Regions from separate parts of the Homo sapiens genome. Here region 2 is linked to region 1. A link means that fine-mapping ties the variant in region 1 to the expression of a gene that starts in the linked region. Tissue or cell type: monocytes after Pam3CSK4. Region 1 holds a variant in brackets; the other region holds the start of a gene. All regions are shown on one strand. Distances are between the middles of the regions.

Evidence for each region. PIP is the estimated chance that this variant, and not a neighbour inherited with it, causes the effect.
Region 2: it holds the start of THAP10, and the variant in region 1 is fine-mapped to the expression of THAP10 in monocytes after Pam3CSK4 (Quach 2016, PIP 0.95).

What each region holds. Positions count from the first base shown.
Region 1 is chr15:71,109,525-71,117,786 of GRCh38, reverse strand. THSD4 (thrombospondin type 1 domain containing 4) reads right to left here and starts at 2,316. Exons shown (of 18, transcript NM_024817.3): 1 at 2,089-2,316. It overlaps CT62 (cancer/testis associated 62), which reads left to right and starts at 2,283. Exons shown (of 4, transcript NR_168260.1): 1 at 2,283-2,863; 2 at 4,024-4,156; 3 at 5,493-5,639; 4 at 6,361-7,543. RefSeq lists silencers at 1,923-2,012, 2,163-2,302, 2,333-2,392, 2,239-2,416, 2,453-2,502. The variant T/C (reference allele first, on the strand shown) is at 3,336.
Region 2 is chr15:70,889,373-70,897,372 of GRCh38, reverse strand. It overlaps THAP10 (THAP domain containing 10), which reads left to right and starts at 4,940. Exons shown (of 3, transcript NM_020147.4): 1 at 4,940-5,529. The coding sequence starts at 5,101. LRRC49 (leucine rich repeat containing 49) reads right to left here and starts at 4,547. Exons shown (of 16, transcript NM_017691.5): 1 at 4,431-4,547; 2 at 3,733-3,789; 3 at 1,437-1,524. The coding sequence starts at 4,478. RefSeq lists an enhancer at 4,587-5,285.

The sequences.
Region 1 (8,262 bases):
ATTAAATAGAAGTGAATACTGGGGAGCCATTGTGATTTCTTGAGAGAAATGATGTGGTGAAATCAGAATTTCAGAAATATTAATCTATCAGCATGAAAGAAGATGGATTAAAATGAAGAAAGCAACTCGTGGCTGGGAGTCAAGAGGGGAGATTATTACTGTAATTTGGACATGGTTGAAGGTGGGGGCAGTGGGAATGGAGACAGGTAAATAATTCCTCAGATATCACAAAAGAATGTGGAAGAGATTTTGCGATGAATGAGCTATAAATGTGGGGGACAGAATGGGAGTGTTGGGAACATTTAAACATTGAGACTCCCAGCAATTAGGATAAAAGTGGTACCATGGAGAGAAATGTGGGGGATGGAGAAGACGGCAATACACAGCCTCTGTGTAGGATAACTGATTGCAATCTCCACAAGTTTTTCGAGGCAAAAACAAAAACAAACTCCAAGTCAAAAATCTCCCCACCCCTGATCTTCCTCCCAAACTCTGGGCTGTATTTTTCTTTCGCTAACAGCCAGTAAGAAATATTTCTTTATGGCATAGGAGACTAAAAAGAAGGTAATGCCAAGCTGGTGCCCCGCCCAGTGCTGGGCACAGAGGAGATCACATGAGTTCCACTGGCCAGCCTCCCCACAAGAAACCAACCCAGTTGCTTATTCAGAAGGGGCTCCAGTATCCTGATCACCCAAACTCATTTCCCAGGCCCAGACCTCTGGGAAATCCCTGCTCCAGCCCTGCAGAGATTTATAGGAAAGTCCCAGGACGCCCATCTGCTTGCTTCCTCACATTAATTTCAGGGCTAGGATTTTGTTTTCTAAAGGAATTCAACTATGATGCCAACAAAAATCTATAGGAATTGAAGAGTTCCGTATTTTAAGTCACATTTTTAAAATGTTTGCTTCTTTGTATATTGAGACCCAGTAAGACCCTAGTAAGCCCAGTTACTCCATCACCTCCAACAATATTAATCAAGTAGAAGACACGCGGATTTTAAAAGCTGTGTGATCCTTGAAAAATCTTCAGACTGTCAGGGGTCCTGGGTGCCTCCAACTGTGAAAGGAGGGTTGGACAAGGCGATTCCTTAGATCTCTCTCGGGTATCTATTTCTCTAATTCCAAATTCCAACAGGCATCCAATGATTGCTACCCACGTCCAAGCTTTAGACTCATAGCCCGAAAAGGGCGAAGCGCAGCGTGGTAGAGATCGCAAAGGAGACAGGAAGAGAAGCAAGCATGCACTTTTAGTAAGACGGCAAAGGAGGCTGGGAGGTACGGTGCTGGGTGCGGACTGCTTAAAAAACTTACTAGACCACAAATTCCAGATACTTAGGTGGGCCCGAGAACGCCCTAAAATCCCCTTCCCAAGTGAGGGCTGATGTTATTTCAAATAAAAAGAAAACTTAACTTCCAGATCTGTAGAGCTCCAAGGTGAGCTCGCTGTGCAAAAGCTACTTCTGTAAGTGCGCCAAGGGGCCGCAGGTACTTAGGCTGCACTTGAGGAAGTGTCCAGAGTTGGCGGAAACAACCCATCCACTCGGGCTCCAGGCGCTCGCTGGGTTGCAGCAACTAAACTGAGACAGACAGACACACAGATCCGAGGCCCCAGGCCAGGACTCAAGGAGCGCTGACCGAGACTTGCCCGGCTCTCGGGCCCCAGGCGGGAGGGAGGCGAGGCTGAGGTGGGGGGCGCACGGGCTGGGTGTGCACTCGCCGGTCCCCTCCGACCCGACCCGGGGAGCACGGGGCCCCGACCCGGGGACGACTGAGGTGGATTGTCCCTAGAGTTTAAGACTGTCCCTAGAGTCGAGGGTGGAGGGATGAGCGCCGGCGCCAGCACAGAGCAAGACTCCCAGCAAGGAAGAGAACCAGAGAAGGAGGCGCAGCCGTCCGCACGGACCAGGCGCGCGCTGGCTCCCCGAGCCCGGAGCGGCGCAGCCCGCGGCGCCCCGGACACACCCACTGGGTAGCCCGCGCCAGCCCGCCCCGCCGGCCAGAGAGCGGGAGCCGGAGCCTGGGCAGCGGAAGCCGGGTCGGGGCCGCGCGGGCGGCGCGCAGGGGACGCGGGGCGCGCGGCTCTGCTCACCTGGCGGTCCGCGTCCCGGAGCGACCGGCGGCCGCCTCGCCTCGCCTCGCCCCCGCGTGGTTCCCGGCGCCGGGCAGCCCCGAGCGCCGCCGCATGGACGGCCGCCACCGCCGCCCAGCCGCCCCGCGCCCGCCCTGCACGGGCTCCCGCTGTGCCCCGATTCCGCGTCGGGCTGCGCGGGCGGCCAGCGGTTCAGGCGCGCGCGGAGAGCTCTGGCTCAGAGTTTGCGATCCGAGAGCGGGATCCGCGCTCCCTCGGTCCTTCCTCCCTCCCCTCTTGCGGCCTCCCGCTGTCATCTGGAGCCGCTCCTGCCGCCCCCTGGCGGCGACCGCGGGAAGGGCCGGCCCCCATCCGCACCCCTGACCCCGGAGGTCAACAACGGGATGGTCCCTGGGTCCCAGGGGAAGAGACATCACCCAGTAGGAGGGAGTACGGTCTAGACAGAGGCCACGAGGGCGGGAGGGGGCGAGAGTGGAGAGTGGCCCAGCTGGCCAGGGTCGTCTAAGTGAGAGGAAAAGGGAGAGGGCGGTTGAGACCAGGCCCTGAATTCCGCGTTCATCTTATCCTGAGGTCTGTGGGGACCTGTTGAAGGACTGGGGCAGGGGACGGACGCGGGCATCCTTCCATTTGGAACAGCCATTCCGGCAGCATCAGGATGGGGCGGAGGCAAAGCGGGGAGTGGGCGAGGCAAGTGGTGCTGTAAACCTGTGCGAGAAGGGGGCGGTGACTCTAAGGGCAGGAAGGAGCCCTGGTCACACACACACTCCCACGCAAGGTAGGACGCGCTGGGCTCCTTCTGAGGCCAAGGGGAAAGGACAAGAGCCCTCCAAATTCCAACGGGGGTTAGACAGCATGGGGAGGAGACACACACACCCTGACGGCCAGAGCCGTTCGGGATTCTTTCTTGTCTTATTCAGAGTAATATTTTGTTGGGGAAAAAAAAGCCTGCTGCAAAAAAATAATAATTCTTCTCATTAGTAATGATAAAAATCAAACTTTGATCCCTTCATTTTACGAATTGGGAAATTATTGCCCCCAAAAGGGCATGACCAAAGTGACGCGTTTAGTTAATGGAGGGAAAATTGCTAGGGCCCCGTTTCTTGAGTCCTAATTCAGAGCCAAATTCTTTACATTCGAGCCAAGGTGTTCAGAGCTGGGAAGGCAGGAAATAGAGTGACTGTGAGGAACTGTCTCTTCTTTCCCCAGAGCAGGGAGGGGGTGACAAATATTTGAAGAGGCTGTCCAGA[T/C]ACAGGCGTTTCCCTAAATTTCAGTCAGCCTGTTTGTTTATCGCTGCCTCTAAAGCTTGCCTGCAGGGGTTGTTTTGAAAGTGCAGGTATACCGAGAGGACAATGAAGGAGGTGGCAGAATGCAAGCTCCCTGCCCCAGAGCCAGGCAGCACCAGGGCTGGGTGCAGAGCGCTTCGTGGGAGCAGAAGGGAGCTCCCAGGGAAGATTGTCCTCCAGAAAAAAAAAAAAATTAACAAAAGGGAAAGAGGCTACTCAAGAGATTAGGCCAAAGAAAGAAACACCATTTTGAGCACCGACTACTGGCCCGGAGCCTGGCAGAGCCAGTTCTGATTGATTCAAGAGCTGGTTCCAATGGGATGAAATAATTCCACACTTGATCAAACAGATTTTGATGGGAGGCACCTGGTGTAAATGGGATTAGATTAATTCTGAGTGTCACGAGTCTCATGGGTCCAAATTAAGTCGATCTAACAGCTCTAGTAAATACTGGCCAGTTTAAACCATTTAGAACTGATTTAAAAAAAAAAACCTGCGCAACTTTAGAATGTACTTAATGTCACTGAATTATACACTTAAAAATGGTTAAAATGGAAATTTTTATGTTATGTACATTTTACCATAATTTTAAAAAAGCAAAACTAATAAGATTTGTTCAAACAAGATTGATTTATTCATTCATTCGAGACAGGTATTCAGTGCCGAGTGTGGCCTTGGTGCTAGGATTCAAAGAGGAAAGGAAGAAAACTTTCCATTCTAAAAGAAACTCCACGTGAGGCGAAGAAGATGAAATATAGTCAGAAAACCATACCAGTAGGTGGTAGGTAAATGCAGAAGTATTTAAGAGCTCATACAGGAGTACCTGCCTCAGGACAGGGAATCTGAGATGCTCTGCAGAGCTGGATCTTAAAGAACGGAGTGAGTTCATCACATAATGTCTGGGGCGAACAGGGCTCAGGAGCAAAGGATGTGGTTTTGTTTGTTATTTTTTAATTTTGAAATAATTTTAGACAAGTTTCACAAATAGTACAAAGAATCCCCTTATATCCCCCACCCTCTTCCTCTAATGTTAACATCCGACATAACCAAAGTATGATTATTAGTGAGCAAACTTGATTCGACAGACCTAGGCTGGCTCCTTAGAAGTGATTCCAGTCCATTTTCAACCTTGGTCAAATTGTTTTGACCATATTTTGCTTATATGTCACAAGAAAGTCTCTTTCTTTAAAGTCAAGATAATACTTGTTTTATTTGTTTATTTATTTTGAGAGAGTGTCTTGCTCTGTCACCCAGGCTGGGGTGCAGTGGCATGATTGCAGCTCACTGCAGGCTCCACCTCCTGGGCTCAAGCAATCCTCTCACTGCGGCCTCCCAGGTAGCTGAGACTACAGGCGTGCGCCACCACATTTGACTAATTTTTTTTTCATTTTTTATTTTTAGTAGAAAGGAGGTATTGCTGTGTTGCCCAGGCTGGTCTCAAACTCCTGAGCTCAAGTGATCCTCCGTTCTTGGCCTCCCAAAGTGCTGAGATTACAGGCGTGAGCCACAGAGACCAGCCTATACTCATTTTAAACAAAGAGATATTTACATTATGTGTAAGCATCAGTGAATATTAAGTATGCTAAGACAGCAAGTTTTAATCTTTCAGTCCTGTTATATTTCTGCTTTTATCCAAATGTGTCTGTCACGTATGAATCAGAAGAGCAGAATGTGGTCCTTGCATATAAAATAGCTTACTGACCCTCACCGAAAGAGAGAGCCAAGAATATGTGCTTCAGATCACAGTCAAAGGCTAGCCTGTGCTTACCTAGGCTGGGGGCCTGCCTGGCATGTCAGTGTCAGCTATACACAGCATCTTGGAGGGTGGGTCACCCCTTTGCATATCTGATGTGGTGAGCTACTCACTACCTCATAAAATAGCCACATTGTTCTTAGAGGCTCTTTGTTAGAAATTCCCTTTTAATTTTGACTTGAAACCTTTTGCCCTGTAATTATTATCCACTGGCCCTAGAGGCAGCTCCTAAAGGGACAGACAAGAAACATAACTCTTCTGTCATGTGTCAGTTCTGTCTATGTAAGACAGCTCTAGCTTACACCTGTTGTCCTATTATAATTATTAATTAATTATTAATAGTACCCCCCTTCATTCTCTTGTCCTAGTTAAGTTGATAAATGATGCATACGACATCCTATAGAAGACTGTCACCACCCCACCTCACTGATCAGCCCTCTGCCTACAGCCACACCCACAGAACATTCAGCCATTTCTCCTGTGGTTCCCAGCCTGCAGCACAGCGTCTGCACGTGGTGAGGGCTCCCAAATCTCTGAGGAATGAATGGCTCACTGCTGAGAGCAACCTTCTGGGAGTTCAGGGCATGTGGAACTGGAATAAGAGCAACGTGTGAACAGATTACAGGAAGGCAATGCAGGACAGCTGGACCCTTTGGGGGGAAACTTATGGGGAACACAGTTTTCTTACTTATAAGCACTGAGATTGCCTGAGAGGGGAGAGATGATGCAGAGTGTCCCAAATGTATTTGACGTGGAATCCTTTTACCAGCGAAACATCTCTTGGGCCTAGAGTTCTGAAAATTGCACTTTGAAAAACACTGCTCTCAGCTCTTACAAACCTCGTGTTTTCATCCTAACTGTGCTTCAGAGAATTGTGTCCCAGCAGGAAAGGAAACCCCCGTATAATTCCCTACGTTGCTAGCATTTGGAAGTGGGATGAAAATGGACCTACATTCAAACCCCTAATTTCAAGCTCTGAAGGAGGTACCAGGATCCATCACGATGCTTGTAAAATTGTTCCTTTCATTTTCCTGGTTGTAAACTTATGCAGACTGTAAAGTCAAGGCAAGCCTGTGCCCAGCAAATAATAAGAAAATAAGGGAGGCATGGTAAACAAAACAAAACACTTTGAGAGTTGGTCAACTTGCTGTTATTTTGAGCTGTTTCTAAAAATCTCAGGGTAGATTCCCTCCCCTGCTTGCCTCCTTAACCCAGTCCTTTTTCTTCCTCCTCCAGGAACTCTGGAATGCTGACCTACAGTCTGAGTTCCTGTGCCCTTGCCTGGGGCTGACTCTCTACTTGACCTGTAACCCACAACTGGGCAAGAGAAAATTCTGCAGCCACAGCTCTGAGGACATGAGCAAAATGGTTTCCAGACGGAATGTCAAGGATTCCCATGAAGTGTCAGGGAGTCTTCAGGCCACACTTCAGGTTATCTCCTTCTCTTTCCCTTTTCTGCTTCACACTTGCTCTCATCCTCTTTCTCACCCCACATCTGGTCAGAGGAGATAGGAAGGTTCTTGTTACCTGGTACAAGACAACTTTTGGAATCCCAGATATTCAGATTATTTCCCCTTTTCCTCTTTGCAAATGATAATACTCACAGCCAAGAGGCATCACCCGGATCCGAGGCTGCTTCTCCTTAGGACATGCAGACAGAAGGAGAAGGCGGGGCTGGCAGCCTCCAGTCCACAGCCTCCCTTTCTTCTTCCGGCGATGATTAACTAGGCCTAGACAATGGAGATCTACGGCATACGCCCAGGGCCTCCTCTTCTCAAGCATGGCTGATCAGTCACTTTCCCGTCTATCCTTCATTTATTGAAGCCAACTATGAACGACTAAAGGAAGGATGAGAAAAGTCACCCAAAGTCAAAGGGGACAGCGTGGGAGACTGTTCTAGACAGAAGGAAACACCTTTGCAAAGACCCTGAGGAAGGCAGGGGACTCTCCAGGAGCAGAAGGGCTGTGTGGCTTCAGAGTCCACAAAAGAGAGCAGATACAGGACACTGGCTAGAGCAGGCCCTGGAGCCCGCTGCTGTCCTGGAGGCCTTGGGGAGGCCCAGTGTTCCCAGGGTGGAAGAAGTAGGGGACAGCTTGACGTAGTGGCTGTTGATCAGCTGATATGGAAGTATGTCATTTTATTAACAATTGAGAAAGGAGTGCTGTGCAATTCCATTCAATGCCAGTGATGCTTATGGCCGTTTTTATGAGTTCTGTCATTTTCAAATGAGCAAGAGGAAGCCTCTAAGGGGGTTTAAGCAGGGACTGACGTAATCAGATCTGTGTTTTTCCAAAGGGAGAGGGAGAAAAAGAACATTTCTTATTTTTCAAAAAAGGTAATGCAAAAGCATCATTCCACAATTCTCTTGTAATGAAAAAAATAAATGCAAACTTAAGCAAATCCATCATTCTGAAAGAATATCCTGCGTCTGCCTTTTCCTTCCTGGGAGACTCTCATAATGAGGTCCTGTCCTTCACCCATTGCTCACACTGCCGCCTGGTACCCCTTGTGACCAGGACTGCAAATCTCCAAGACAACTGGAGCAGGGTGGGAGAGCTCAGCCAGGAAGCAGCTTCTCTGTTTGAGGCTAATCAGCTTACATTGTGCTTGAAATTGCTGTCACCTTGGCCTTGTTGGCAATTTTCCCTCTTCAGCAAACCGGCTTTCTTGTTGAATGAATTAATTTTTATAAAATCTCAGAGATAGGGCATATCCAATGAACACTGGCCAGATATGGCTTATGTATAAAACCAGGGCACTACAAACGACAAAGTCACACGGTCTCCAAGTTCATGGCTTTGCCTTGCCTCACTCACCTTCATCCTGCCTCTCTTCAGCACACAGACCACCTACTATGTGCTAGTTGTAGCGGCTCACCAGACAGTGCTGCCAGAGTGTTCCTGGGTCCCACGTTCCTTTTTTTTTTTTTTCTCTTTTAGTGTTTCCTTTCACCACTCTGTGTGTGATGGTGGACACTTTTGCTTATGAGCAGCAGTTTGGTGTCATAAAAGAAAGCAGTCAGTCCCCCAAACACTACACCGCCATTGCTCTCTGGCCATCCCATCGTAGAAGTCACCAACCTCCAAACTGCAGTCGCCTCCCCTATGGAATGGCAAGAACCTAATTATACCTGTTGG
Region 2 (8,000 bases), 220 kb after region 1:
TGAAAAACCAATTAGGTTTTTTTTCCTAAAGAGTTAATTCATACTGAATGGGTCATTACTTATGTATAAAACTTTATTCATCTCTCAGGTTCACAAAATTCAATACATCCATACTATTTCCTCATTAGCGAATATCTAGTAATACTTTACCACTTAAATAAGTTTGCCTGGCCAGCCGTCCTCAAATCTGTTTACTAACTGCCTACTCTAACTCAAGAAAACCTTAGTGAAAGTACTTAATTTTGATTCATGGTTTCGGGAAAACTTTTAAGATATTGTTACCAAAAATGTCAAGGAAATTGACAATGCAAGCATAAAAACCCTAGTTGAGGCTTCACATCTATAATTCTGTACCTAAAACAGTGATCGGCACACAATACTTGCTTTATAAATAAGTATTGAACTGAATCAAATAAGGCAAAGACAGATGTTTTCCACACTGTGGAACTGCAGTTAGGCTGACGTCATGTCCAGCAATTGGCCAAGACAAGAGTGTAGAATGTAGGAAAGAGAAAAGATATGTCAGATTAGATGGGTCCAAGAAGTAGGTCCAGAAATAAAAAGAGAGAGAAAATTAACCAATATTTTAAATTGCCATATGTTCCCACAGTAATAACATGAACAACCTAGAAAGGCCTATACTGATCAGCCCTCTCATATAAACTCCTAAGAGGTAGAGGCAGTTTTGTATATGTGGATTCAGAAGTGTTTAACATGAGCACATTACAGAAAGCTAATGGCTGTCAGCAACAAACCAAGATTCAAATGTGAAGGAACGTTTTCCTTGATTTGAAAAATATATTTCAGAAATATAACCAGATCATGTGAGGCAGTATTTGTCAAAGGATGACCCACAAACCATATACCTCAGAATCACCTGTGACATTATTAAAATGCACATTTCCAAATCCCGCTCAAGACCTACAAAATCAGAATGGGGAAGATGGAGGGGGAGCACTAAGAATGTGCATTTTTAACAAGATCCCAAGATCCCAAGTGATAGACACTAGAGTTTAAAGCCTTTAATATAAAATCTATAATTATATGTGACAGTAACAGGGAAAGATTGTTTCTTCTCTACTCCTGACTTTACATTCTTTCCTGATTTCCTTAATATTTGTGTTCCCATACTCTTACTCTAATTAGCGACTTCCAAATACTGTTCTAATACAGTATTTGAAACATTCTTTTTCCATTCTCTAGTGTATAGCCCACCCTCAAAGTAAAATAATAACAGCTTTTTTCTGTATTGGAAATAATCTACTATGCTACATATATATAACCAATGATTTAAAAAAATACCAAACCAATTTGGTCCCAATGAACAATTTCATTTTAAATTCAAGTTTATTTGGATCTAGTAATTCAACATTATTAAACACTTAATATTATTCAAAGATGATGAACCACATCTGATCTCTATTCACTGACAATACCTTGCCTACTTGAGTAGTTTCTTTCAAGGTCATGTTGTAAAAGTCTACCGGGGAATGACGATGTGTCTTTATTTAGCTTGAATTCAACCTGAAAAACATTATTAAAGAAAAAAATATTTGGAGACAAATTTAACACCAAGCAGTGAAGATAAATTAAAAAAACATATAATAACTGATACACATGGTACAATGTGGATGAACCTTGAAAACATCATGCCAAGTGAAAGAAAACTGACACAAAATACCACATTGGCAAATCCATAGAGATGGAAAGCATATTTGTGGCTTCCAGGCATTTAAGGGAAGCAGGGAATGGGAAGTAACTGCTTAATGGGTACAGGGATTCCATTTGGAATGATGAAAAAATTCTGGAACTAGATAGAGGTGATGGCTGCACCTCTATCATTGTATTTTACCACCCACAAAATCAGGATCAATTTTATGAGGTCAGATACAAGATATTCCAAGCTGAGACACTTCCAATCCCTCCACGCTCTCACCACAAATACAATGATTAAAAGAATCATTTGCTTCAAAAAAAAACACACAATATAAATAAAATGCTGTTGAAAAAATCACTGTTTTGATCATTATAATCCTTTTAAATGTCCTATTATAATATAATAAAATTGTATATTTAAGCCTTCTAAGAAAGGTTTTCACTTGATCTAAAACTGATCTAAAATAATTATCTGGTGGGAGGACTGAGAAAAACAAAACCAGAACAACTTCTTATGATTAGCCACAAAAAACCCCAAATATGTATCTTGAATTAATTAAGATACTTCTAATGTATCCATACTATAAACATTATGTTGGCATTTGCATTATATCCTTAGGAATTATATGACCTAAAGGTATTTTCTCAGAATAGATGTCCACACAAGAGAAAGTGAATGGTTTGGAAAAAATATTTAGATGAGGCACACAGCTCTAGAAACATTATAATGGTGGAAAAGGATTTGTCCAGAGAAATCAATTAGGAAAGCTCTGGAGAGAATCCATTATGCTCAATTATAATAAATAATATTTTCAATTAATCTAACTGCTGTTTATTTGAGATGATCAAATTGTCTATTTTCTGAGTGTTTACCATTTTCATATTCATATATAATGTAATCAACAGCTGCCTCCTTGACTAACGATGTCCTTCCATTTACCTTCCTCATGCCTTTTCTTACCCTTCTTCATGCTGTTATGTGTGAACTCTGCCCTTCACTTTAGAGTTCTTCCAGTGACGCCTATTTAATAACTTTTTAGGACACACCTGAATTGTGATGGTTAGAGGTTTCCAACTTGGTCAAAGGAGGAAAAATCATGTTGTGTCTTGAGACATAGTGTGTAGAAAGTAGGTAAGTATAAATGCTGAGGTGAGACAGAAAGGAAAGAAAAACATGTTTATCTCAAAATCTCAAAAATTAAATCAAAAGCCAGAAATTCTAGAAATGCTAGAGACATTATGGGGAAATAATCTTGGGGAAAAAAATCTCATATTCATATCGTAACTTCTAAATAACGTTAAGTCTAACATGTGTCCACTGCTAACCTATTTTTTTCTTCCCTGATTTTAAATGGGATGTGTGGATATGCCCTCCCAATTACCATTTTATCTAAGGTGTCATTAGTAGTAAGACATACCATTATTTTACCCTCTATTAAGAAAGAAAAAAAACCTCCCCAATTAAACTATGACATGCCATCAATTTTAAGAAGGCTCCTGATTTCAGAAATGTGTAAATATCACTGGGTGCGGTGGCTGTTGCCTGTAATCCCAGCACTTTGGGAGGCCAAAGCAAGCGGATTGCTTCAGCTCAGGAGCTCGAGAACAGCCTGGGCAACATGGTGAAACCTGTCTCTACAAAAAATACAAAAATATTAGCCGGGCGTGGTGGCATGCACCTGTGGTCCCAGCTATTCAGGAGGCTGAGGTGGGAGGATCGCTTGAGCCTGGGAGGCAGAGGTTGCAGTGAGCCAAAATTGTGCCACTGCACCCCAGCGCCCCAGCCTGGGTGATACAGCTAGACCCTGTCTCAAGAAAAAAAAAAGTGTAAATGTCAAAAAAAAAAAACAAAAAAACCCTTACCCTTTTGTAATCAATAAAATCACATTAAGTTTTTTAAAGAGGGCTATTTTAGCTTTATGTAGGCAGAAAGTAAGAACTAGCTTTAAACTGGAAATCAAAGCAAATCTACTTAAATTTTTCAGTTTAGAATCTATCTACACTTTAAGTCATGCTGCTATTTGTGTAGAATTTAAAACAATCTTCAATTTAAATGCCAACCTTCTTAAATCTTACTTTGTTTTTTTCAGGAAGCGATGATGTTTGAATAACCAGATGAAGCCCGCAGTTCACCTGAAATGTAAAAATTAAACCATAAAATTTGCTCTTAATACACAAACACATATTTCCAAAAAAAAAAAAGGTACAAACAGAAATACAACAAAAAAATAGAACACAATGCTCTATTTCTGTTTCTGGTAAATGATCTTGTTCTGAGGATTTGCTGAAAACAATAAAATCACATCTAAGAATTAAAAGGTTTCACTGATTTATTTTCCAAAATGTCGGCAGCAATTTAACCCTCTAGTTAGTACCTCAGGCTTTCGACATTTGCCATTCAGGTCTAAATAAACATCTCAATGAGACAGGTGAAGGAGGTGGGAGTCCCTAATGATAAATTCTCTTCACAGTTAAAAGGAAAAGAAAAGAAAAAGGAATTGACTGGCCAAAGGAATTTAAATAAACCCAAGCCTTTCACAGCAGACCAGCTCCACCTTCTGGGGAGCCCAGATCCTGGACAAGACTTTGAGTACCCATCATACAATATTAAATTGTGCCTTGGTCCAGCCCACGAACCTCAAACCCTGGTCAGACAATAGCTTGAGTAGACCCAGCGGTGCCGGTCCTAATAATACAGCCCATCTCCTAGGACAAAGACGCCAGTCAGAAAGAGTACCAGTGGGAAGAAAGAGAAAGTAGAAGGCCCAACTTACGTTGTTCGCAGCCCGGCCAGAAACAGAGCGATATTTCCCGGGAATCATGATAGGAGACAGTCCAGGTTCTCTGTTAGATCTGCCTTCCAGGTGACGCTACAGCGGAGATTCAAAGAGACCCGAAAGAGGTCATCTCCCAGGCAACCTGCTCAGGGTTACCATGGAAACGACCATTTCCGGTCTGGACCTCTCCCGAATCGATAGAGCCACACAGTCGTTGCAGCTTCTAGTTGTATTCGTGAGAGCCCAGTGCGTCACCACTTCCTCGTTCTATTTTCCCAGCCTCATAAAAACAGAGCGGGAGTATTGGGAGGAGGATAAGCTGGGGAAGAGGCTGGCCACACTGGTTGCTATAACCACCACCACTTCCGGTCCGTTCCTCTTTACGGCCCACCTCAGCGCTGCCCGCGCGAAATTTGTATCCCTCTGCTTGTGTCCACTGGCTCCTGGGGAGCAGCGCAGGGAGGAGGAGGAGGAAGATATCAAAGAGCCCTCCCATTGGGGGCCCCAGATCGCCACTTCCGGTGACCAGAGGTAGGGAAGGAAACAATCCCGACCCGGAGTGGACAGGTGAGGAGGGGAGGACTTGCCTCGCCGAGGCCGCTGCGAGGAGCGTGCCCAAGGGCGAAGGTCCAGGGAACCCGGCTCCCGCGCACCGAAGACGGCCGCCATGCCGGCCCGTTGTGTGGCCGCCCACTGCGGCAACACCACCAAGTCTGGGAAGTCGCTGTTCCGCTTTCCCAAGGACCGGGCCGTGCGGCTGCTCTGGGACCGCTTCGTGCGGGGTTGCCGCGCCGACTGGTACGGAGGCAATGACCGCTCGGTCATCTGCTCTGACCACTTTGCCCCAGCCTGTTTTGACGTCTCTTCGGTTATCCAGAAGAACCTGCGCTTCTCCCAGCGCCTGAGGCTGGTGGCAGGCGCCGTGCCCACCCTGCACCGGGTGCCCGCCCCGGCACCTAAGAGGGGAGAGGAGGGAGACCAAGCAGGCCGCCTGGACACGCGAGGAGAGCTCCAGGCAGCCAGGCATTCTGAGGCTGCCCCAGGTCCAGTCTCCTGTACACGCCCCCGAGCTGGGAAGCAGGCTGCAGCTTCACAGGTAAAGAGAGACCACCGAAGGTTGTGTAAGGACCCCTGGACTCTGGCTGGGCTCCTCCACTTAGTGTCACCTTGGGAAAGGCACCTCATCTCGAAAGTTCCTGTTTTCTAATCTGCAAAGTTAGGGGTGTGCTTTAGAGGTGATCTCCAAGGTCCCACTTATCATTAACACTTTGGAATTAAGTGACCCAGTTAATTCCTTCTAACTGCTCCTCCCCCAAAACTCACACACACACACACACACACACACACACACACACACACACACACACACACAGAGTCTTGTCCTGCAGAGTAGTGAGTTGCTTTCACTCGCTGCTCCAGAGTTTTTAAATAGAAAGGGTTTAATTTGAGCAAATCTCCAGGATTGGAGTGCTTGAAACTGTGTTGCATAACATTACATAAGCTTGAGGAAAGTCCCTTATTTGTGTCACAAATGATGGGGCGAAGGAGATGTGGAGCTACAGATGAAGATGATGGAGCTTGCTAATAAATCCCTTCCCACCCCAAGCTTCCTTTATGACTGATAACTAGCTCCAGCTGCCTTTAAGTTCAGTATCCCTAGTGAGCTGACTTTCCCCATCTTGCTCTCTTCTGCCTACTTTTCTGTTCCTTCTAAACATTGTTTGCACTCATTTTGCATCTGGTTACTACTACCTTCTTCCCCACGTACCATTTTAAAGAAAACTTTCCAGCCTTCCTTGTGATAAACTTCAGCCTTGCCACCATTACACAGATTAAATTATAGCAAGAGGTTAGTAATTTCCTCAGGGGTCTGTAATCCTTACTTAGGTCCGGTTGCCAGACCAACACTCTTTCTGCAGTACTAACCTGCTTCCTACATTGGGGTGGGTATTTAAGACCCTTTAATGGCATCTTGCAATTATTAAGATAAAGAGCAAAATTATTAACCCAATTTACATGGCCCTGCATGTTTTTTCCCCCTGCATACCACACTAGCCCTAACCAAGGCCACTGTCCCTGTTGCTCACTGTGTACCATCATGCTGACCTTTCAGTTCTTGGACATACTATACTATATTACTTCCTACCAACAAGACTTTGCTCAGTTGTTGCATGTATTATAATATCCTGGAACTATGCCCCTCCCACTCCCATCATTGCCAATTAAGTCTTTTTCCCTTAAAAATCAGCTAAACATCTTTCCCCTTGATCCCTTAGTTATGTACTCTCATTCTTCGTGTACTCCATGTGATTCAATAGCACAGATACTTCAGTAGCACTTACCATAATTGCCATGAAATAATTGTGTAGTTTGCTTAATATTTGTTTCTCATATTAGAATGTAAGCTCCATGAGAGCTAGGATCATGTCTGATTTCTTTGCCATTGTATTGCAGTGCCTAAAACAATATTTTACAAATTTAAGTAATTCAATAAATATTTATGGAATGATTACATGACTATAAGAACAAATTTTTGCATTATAATTGAATTTTCAATTATCTGCCAGTTTCCCTCCTCACCAAGCTGTATACCTGTCAAGATAGCTGTCCTTTCCTTGAACCATCTGTCCACCATCACCACCTATACAAACTTTGCCCAAACATATACATCCACATACATATATATGTGTGTAGCAAGAGAGATAAATACTAAACATGTGCCACACACATCCCCCTACACCATTTTTCTTCTTCATAATTACACAACCTAATCAAAAATTGGGAGAAGAAAAGCCAAGCTAGTCAAACAACCAAAGTCTTTATAACCCATAAAAACTAACCGTTGGGAAACAGATCCAGCATACATAATAAATCTGTTTTCCATTTAGTAAGTATAACCAGCCAACATTTATAACAATCCATAGTACATTAATATACTTGCTGAATTACTAGAAAACTGTGAGTTCTAAAATAGTCACTTTAAAAGTATATAAGGTTAAAAAGATTTTGAGTTGATAGCAATAAATGTTTAGCCTGGTCTGGATAAAGAACCCTAACCACATCGCTAAAAAATTGGCTTGTCTATCTGACTTCTTCCCCCACCCAATGTTTTTCTTCCCAATCCCAGGACTAACTGTCTAAAAATCAGATTTCCAGTGATTCTGCAACATTTATTGAAGAGCTATTGTAGACACTGTTCTGGGTGCTTGGTGCTATATATGGATCAATATAAATATGAGTGTTACATATCTTTAGGGGGCTTCCAAAAAGATAAGACACCACTTCCAAGGAAAGAAAGGGGCTTATTTATTGTTTTCCCTTAACTGTTAATTTTGCATTCTTTTTTAAAAAACCCAACTGAATTTTTTAAATTGTTGACTTGAACTATAGCAAATACACAGAAAAGTGAACAAATCTTAAGTGGACAAGTCATTAAATTATCATAAACTGAACATGTGTAACCACAACCCAAGTCAAAGAAACAGAACATTGCTAGCACCCCAGGAGTCCCTATATCACCCCATATCCAGCCCCTCCCCTCTCCTCAAAGGTAACCAAGTTTGCTTT